Homo sapiens: one gene and its partner. The protein of the gene in region 1 purifies or fractionates together with the protein of each later gene. This does not show direct contact. Each region holds a gene or a part of one and is shown on either strand. Other genes may lie near its edges. The genes, in order: CCDC142 and OMA1.

The links.
Region 2: the proteins of CCDC142 (region 1) and OMA1 purify together in Homo sapiens (affinity purification with mass spectrometry; one large-scale study listed by BioGRID and IntAct). This does not show direct contact.

What each region holds. Positions count from the first base shown.
Region 1 is NC_000002.12:74,476,243-74,480,062, reverse strand, and holds part of CCDC142 (coiled-coil domain-containing protein 142), read left to right. Parts: intron 1-3,820.
Region 2 is NC_000001.11:58,539,907-58,543,726, reverse strand, and holds part of OMA1 (metalloendopeptidase OMA1, mitochondrial precursor), read left to right. Parts: intron 1-3,820. UniProt on the Homo sapiens protein: Metalloprotease that is part of the quality control system in the inner membrane of mitochondria. Activated in response to various mitochondrial stress, leading to the proteolytic cleavage of target proteins, such as OPA1, UQCC3 and DELE1.

The DNA of each region.
Region 1 (3,820 bases):
TTCCTACTTCATTTATGAGTTGGATTACTCCTATGAAGAAAAACTTGCCTTCATTAATGATTTGGTTACTCTTAGGTATATTTTAGAGAGAAAATTCAGGATAAATGATTGCATCTTTCTCTTTACTTACCAGTTATCGGCACATTTCTCCTCTCTTAAAAGTTTAATTTGTATTTTTATTAATGCTTTGGGAGGCCAAGGCAAGAGCATTGCTTGAGGCCAGGAGTTCGAGACCACCAGGGGCAACATAGCGAGACCACCCTAGGCAACACAGACTCCCATCTCTCCAAAAATTAAAAAATTTAGCTGAGCATGGTGGCATGCGCCTGTACTCCCAGCTACTTGGGAGGCTGAGGCAAGAGGATCGTTTGAGCCCAGGAGGTCAAGGCTGCAGTAAGCTGTGATAGCCACTGCATTCCAGCCAGCCTAGGCAATACAGTGAGAGACCCTGTCTCAAAAAATAAAATAGTGCATGTCTATAGTTTAAAAAGTGAAATAGAATATTATTTTATAAAACTAATGAAAAAACAGCACTTTGTTTGCCCTCACTCACCTCTGATTTCTATTTCACAGTAGTAACCTTCATCCATGTTTGCCTGTTTCTCCTAACATTTTCTTATATGTTTATGAATAAAGCCATTATACTTTTTCTTCCCCATTTTGCACATTTATCTATTCCTATGTGGAAGATGTCTGGTTTTTTGTTTTCCTGCTCAGTTTTCTCCTCTTTGCCCCGAATAGGGGTGTGGCTGTAGAGTTCAGTCCTTAACTCTCTGCTTTTCTCTCAGTATTCCTGCTTACCCACAGTGTCTTGCTGCTGTGAACTCCCGGGTTCAGTCTTTCTGGCTCCCAGAGTTCTTTTTTTTTTTCTAAGATGGGGTCTCACTGTCACCCAGGCTGGAGTGCAGTTATGTGATCTTGGCTCACTGCAACCTCCACCTCCTGGGCTCAAGCAATCCTCCCACCTCAGCCTCCTGAGTAGCTGGAACCACAGGTGGAAGCCACAATGCCCAGCTACTTTTTTTTTTTTTTTTTTTGAGAAGGTGTCTCACTCTGTCACCCAGGCTGGAGTGCAGTGGCGTGATCTCTACTCACTGCAACCTCCACCTCTCAGGTTCAAGTGATTCTCCTGCCTCAGCCTCCTGAGTGGCTGGGATTACAGGCGCCTGCCACCACGCCCAGCTAGTTTTTGTATTTTTAGTAGAGATGGGTTTCACCATGTTGGCCAGGCTGGTCTGGAACCCTTGACCTCAGGTGATCCACCCACCTCAGCCTCCCAAAGTGCTGGGATTATAGGTGTGAGCCACCACACCCGGCCAATGCCCAGCTACTTAAAAAAATTTTTTTTTTTGTAGAGACAAGGTTTTGCCATGTTGCCCAGGCTGGTCTTGAACCCTTTTTAAAAATCTTTTTAAAAAACTTTTTTGGGAGGCCAAGGTGGGTGGATCGCCTGAGGTCAGGAGTTCAAGACCAGCCTGCCCAACGTGGTGAAACCCCGTCTCTACTAAAAATACAAAAAAGTAGCCGGTATGGTGGCAGGTGCCTGTAATCCTAGCTACTTCTGAGGCTGAGGCAGGAGAATCGCTTGAACCTAGGAGGCGGAAGTTGCAGTGAGCCGAGATAGCGCCATTGCACTCCAGCCTGGGCAACAAGAACAAAAATTCTGTCTCAAAAAAAAAACAGAAAACAAAAAAATTTTTTGTCCAGGTGCAGTGGCTCACACCTGTAATCCCAGCACTTTGGGAAACCGAGGCAGGTGGATCATCTGAGGTTAGGAGATCAAGACCGGCCTGGCCAACATGGTGAAACCCTGTCTCTTCTAAAAATACAAAAATTAGCTGGACATTGTGGTGTACACCTGTAATCCCAGCTACTCGGGAGGCTGAGGCAGGAGAATCACTTGAATCCGGGAGGCGGAGGTTCCAGTGAGTCGAGAGCGTGCCATTGCATTCCAGCCTGGGCAACAGAGTGAGACTCAAAAAAAAAAAAGTATATATATATATTTTATTTATATTATATCTATATATATTTTATTTATATTATATCTATTTATATATATATATATTTTTTTTTTAATTAGAAGTTTGGCTCGTGACATAGCCCTCAGGAGATCTGAGAACATGTGCCCTGTTCTTGAACTCTTGAGCTCAAGCAATCCACCGCCTTGGCCTCCCAAAGTTCTGGGATTACAGGCATGAGCCTCCACACCCAGCCTGGCTCCCAGAGTTCTAGTTAAACATCTGCATTTGCCTGTTGGGCATTTCTACCTCAGTTTACTGCTGTCTACTTAAACTCAACATGCCCCAGAGCAGGCTCATCATGAGTACTGCACACAGTGACGGTCATAGAGCCCTGAGGAAGGAAGGCTATAGTGGGCATGTGGTTAAAGAACGCTCCATACATGGCCTATGGCTGGAGATGGTGGCTGGGAAGCCTCAGAGGAGTGGCTGGGGTTACTGGAAGTGGGCAGTTTGTAGATCCTTGTGGGGGTAGCAGAGAGGTGGCCTTACCAGAGCAGAGGTTCCTTTTGTGGGTATGTTCACTGGGGTTGGGTGTGGGGTAGGGTAGTAAGCAATTTGGCATCAAATTGTGGAGGGCATGAACACCAGCCCCAACAATTTGCGCTTTACCTCATAAGTGAGGGGGTGACATTTTAAGAGCAGAAGGGTGTAATCCCAGCATTTCGGGAGGCCGAGATGGGTGGATAACTTGAGGTCAGGAGTTTGTGACCAGCCTGGCCAACATGGTAAAACCCCATCTCTACTAAAAATACAAAAATTAGCCAGGCATGGTGACGGGTGCCTGTAATCCCAGCTGCTCAGAGGCTGAGGCATGAGAATCGGTTGAACCCAGGAGGCAGAGGTTGCAGTGATCTGAGATTGCGCAACTGCACTCCAGCCTGGGCAATAAGAGCGAAACTTGGTCTCAAAAAAAAAAAAAGAGGCATTGTGAGTTTTCTTCCTGTTTGGACTATAAGATCCCAGTGGGTGGGGGAGAGACTGTCACACACTCTGCACCTTGTATTCCCTCAGTGTTGAGTACAGAGGCTCCTAACAAAAGTCCGTTGACAAAAGGGCAATTTCCTTGACATAAATAAGGGAGGAGAAGGGGGCTTGCATTTACTGGAGAAGAGAGGAAGATTTTGGATTTAGACAGGTTGTCAGATGTGCCAGGAGCCATATGGGCTCCACTCCATGTCTGGCCGCCCCCAGGTCTATCCTGTCTTCAGGCTCCCTGGCATCTACCATTTCTTTACAGAGCAGCTGCCATTAACCACATTTACTGGGGTTCCTCTCCCTCAAGATGGGCTGTAGAGCAGAAACCAGCTTTATTGCTGTGTTCTCTCCCTCCAAAAACAACCTATCAAACCAAAGAAACAAACCCAGCATATAGGCCTTTTCTTGCTTTATGGGTTATATTGCTCTGGAGTGGGCTGTGAAGAATAATAATATATAATAATGCCTTTCAATGTAAGGACATTCCAAAACTTCCTGAGTCTCAGAACATTCAAATAGTCATTGCTTCTGGTTTACATACAGTTCTTGTCTTCCTTTTGTAGGTGATAACCAAAAGATCATTGTAGGCTGGGTGTAGTGGCTTAGTGGCTCACATCTGTAATCCCAGCACTTTGGCAGGCAGAGGCAGGCCGATCACCTGAGATCAGGAGTTTGAGACCAGCCTGACCAACATGGCAAAACCTTGTCTTTACTAAAAATACAAAAATTAGCTGGGTGTGGTGGTGCACTCCTGTAGTCCCACCTACTTGGGAGCCTGAGGCAGGAGAATCACTTGAACCCGGGAGGCAGAGGTTGCAGTGAGC
Region 2 (3,820 bases), on another chromosome or scaffold:
GATTGCTATCTTTTAAATCTTTTAAAGATTTACAGATCATCATGTCATTTTTTAAATGATTACCTGGTATTTACCAGGGTAGGACTGTATGTTAATTGTCGGGGTAGGATTCTGTTGCCAGGGTTTGCATTTTAGAAATAATGCTTTAGCTCTAGTTTGGGGTCAAACTGTAGTGGGAGGGGTTAGTGGTGAAATAAGGCAGGGAGATTAGGTGGGTAGTGATCAACACCATAAGACCACAGAGCCCAGGAAAGGCTAGAATGAGATAAGAAGGAGGTAGAATTGACATGACTGATTTAATGTGGGCTGAGATATTTTGGATGCTAAAGTTGCTGTAGAGATAATCCAGTATTTCTGGAACTGATTAAATGTTGAAAATTGGTAAATTTGGCTTTGCAAAGTGTAGGAGGAACCCTCAGCTAGTTCCAGTAAACAACATGTATAATATTAAAATGCTGTCAATTTACAAAAACAAATGTATAACTGTTTTATACCATGTAAACGTCTTAGAGATCATTTATTTGCAGAATACAGAAACTCATTGAAGAAAGCGCATTATTTTGGGGATAAAGTAAAAGCTCATGAAGCTCAATTAAGTGTAGGAAGTACAATGGTTTCATGGGAATCAGGGAGGTCTTATTCTCTCATATTCACTCTGGCTTTGTGGTCTCTCACTTATCTTCTGTCTACACTTAATAGTCCATTGTCTTTTCTGTGGATCCACTTTTTTTTTTTTAAAAAAGCTTTTTGTTTGTAGTTCTTGCTTTCATATTGCTTTGTTTAGCCATAGCACCCGCTGTAGACCCAACTTACACATGCCCTTATATTCCTGTGCGGAATACTGTTTTATGTAAAATCTTTTCAGTATCAAATACCTACTCCTAGCTCTGTAGCTAATGGTAGGGGTTGCTAGGGATGAATGTGGCCGTCTAAGCCTGTCCCCTAAAATGAGGCTGTAAGATGCACATTTGGAAAAGGACTTGTGCTTGGGCAAGTGTCTGAAGCTTATCTACTACAGTAAATCATCAGATTTGAGGTCAAGGAAAGAAAGTGGGCTTGGGTTGTTTTTGCAGTTTGACTTCTAGAAGAAGACTTTACATTTAAACCTTAAAACACTTTCCCATTTAAAACAGTTCTTTCCATTTTTTTTTGTCTTTCTGCATCTGCCTAAATGGCATGAAAAATAATTGCTGCCTTCCTGAACTCTTCAGCTACTCATGGATGTCTTTTTAAGAATGCATACAGTATGTAGTATTTAATAACTGAATTTTATTATCCCCTAATAGTCTTACTTAGGTTCAGTTTTGTCTCCCCAACTAGATTATAACCTCCATGAGAGCAGGACTATATTCTGTGCTGCATAACTCTCATGGCCCCTAGCCAATGAAAACCTTACTAGCTACTCCAGTATGAATTGTGAAATGACTTCTAGGCTTAAATTATTTAACAATTTTTCAGCTTGGTTCAAAAAAGTAAAAACAAAGTATCTTGTTAATAATGTCAAACTATTATATATCAGCCTGGACTTTACTAATTTAAAATTGGTTGTATTTCAAAAAGGGTTAACTCAAAGTTAATGTTTTACTTAGCATGCCCTTTATTAACATTATACATTAACAGTGCAAGGGCAGGATGTATGAATTACATAAAAAATAAATTTGAGTAATTTTCAAATGGTTTGATATATAGATAATACTATTAAAACTGGTAGTCCTGGAGCATCTTTCTAGATAATATCGTATTAGCTTAGGTTGAAGTTTACATATTTTTTTCCCCAACTTTTATATGAAGATTTTGAAACATGCAGAAAAATTTAAGGAACACATATGTAACTATCACTGAGATACAATGATTGCTGATATTTTGTTTATTGACTTTATGTCCTTTGTGTGTGTACCTTTGCTGTACAATTTGAAAGTGAGTTTTATTTATCATGAACAGATCCTTCAGCAAGTATCTCAGGAATAAAATAGTCAGATAACCACAATATTATCACCTAAGAAAATAATAATTACCTAAAACAACTTGAAATTCAATTCATATTTAGATTCCCTCAATCTGGGTTTTTTTGTTTTTTGTTTTTGGTTTTTTTTTTTTTTTTTTTTTTTTTTTGACAGGTTCTCATTCTGTTGCCCACGCCGGAGTGTAGTGGCACAATTTTGGCTCACTGCAGTCTCTTGCCTCCCAGGTTCAAGTGATTCTCCTGCCTCAGCCTCCCAAGTAGCTGGGTTTACAGGCAAGCACCACTCTTTGTAATCCCTTCCCCTGCTGCTTTTTTCCTACAACTCCTCAAGCAGTCACTCATCTCTCTGTCACTATGGATTAGTTTGCATTTTTTGCAGTTTATATTATAGAGATGTAATCAGAGTATGTACTTTCTTGTGTTTTTCCTGTTTTTTTTTTTTTTTTTTTTTTTTTTTTTTTTTTTTTTTTGAGACAGAGTCTCACTCTGTTGCCCAGGCTGGAATGCAGTGGCGTCATCTCGGCTCACTGCAACCTCCGCCTCCCGGGTTCAAGCGATTCTCCTGCCTCAGCCTCCTGAGTAGCTGGGATTACAGGCAAGTGCCACCACACCTGCCTAATTTTTGTATTTTTAGTAGAGACGGGGTTTCACGCCTCGAATGCCTGACCTCAAATGATCCACCTGCCTCGGCCTCCCAAAGTGCTGGGATTACAGGCGTGAGCCACCATGCCCAGCTTTTTTTGTGTTTTTCAATGAATTTATACAGTTCACCTAAGATGTCAAGTTTAAGATTTTATCTTTCATTGATTTTAAGAAGTTATGTGCCTTGTAGTTTTTTTCCTTTGTGTTTCTTTTGTGTAGGATTTGTTAAACTTTTTGAATTTGTGGTTTTATAATTTTCATCAAGTTTGGAAAACTTTTGGCCATTATTTCAAGTGTTTTTTTTTTCTGTCTACACCTCCTCCCCGCTTTTTGGGGACTTCAGTTAGATGAATATTAGGCCACTTGAAGTTATTGCATACCTCATTGATGCCCTGTGCCTTTTTTTATTATTGTATTTTTTCTCTGTATTTCATTTTAGATGGTTTCTATTGATACGTCTTCAAAGTCACAAATCTTTATTTCTACAATGTTAATCTGCTGTTAGTCTCATCTAGTATGTTTTTCATCTTAGTTCTTACAGTTTTCTTGTCTAAAAGTTTAGGTCTTTTAAAGAAATATATTACATATCTCTACATAACATGCTCATATTTTCCTTTAGCTTCTTAAACATGTGCAGTATAGTTACAATAACTAATATCCTTATCTACTAATGCTGTTATTTGTTTATTTAGGAGTTAGTTTCCACTGATTGATATTTCTTCTAATTGTGGATCACATATCTTGCTGCTTGCATGCTTGGTGATTTTTAATTATAAATTGCACCTTGTTAAGTGTTAAATAGTTTTGTGTCCTAATACCTGTTTAGATTTTTTTTTTTTCCTGGGATGCAGTTGTTGCTTGGAAGCATTTAATCTTTTTGGGGGTTGCTTTTAATATTTGTTAGGTGGGGCCAGAGCAGCTTTCGGTCTCAGACTAATCTTTCTCTAATGTTGAGGCAAAACCCTTCTGAGTACTCTACCCACGAATGATAAGGTTTTCCACTTTGAATGGTGGGGAGGGGATAGGCAGTATACCATGCCCTGTGTGAGCCCTGTATATTATTCCCTGCAATCTTTTCAGGTGGCCCTTTCCCAGCTCCAGGGAATTTTCTTACACATATGCCCAGACAGGACTCAGCTGAATATGGGAGGGGGATTCTCTGCAGAACTCTAGAGTTATTTCTCTGTGCAGCTCTTGTCTTCTCTTGTCCTCTGT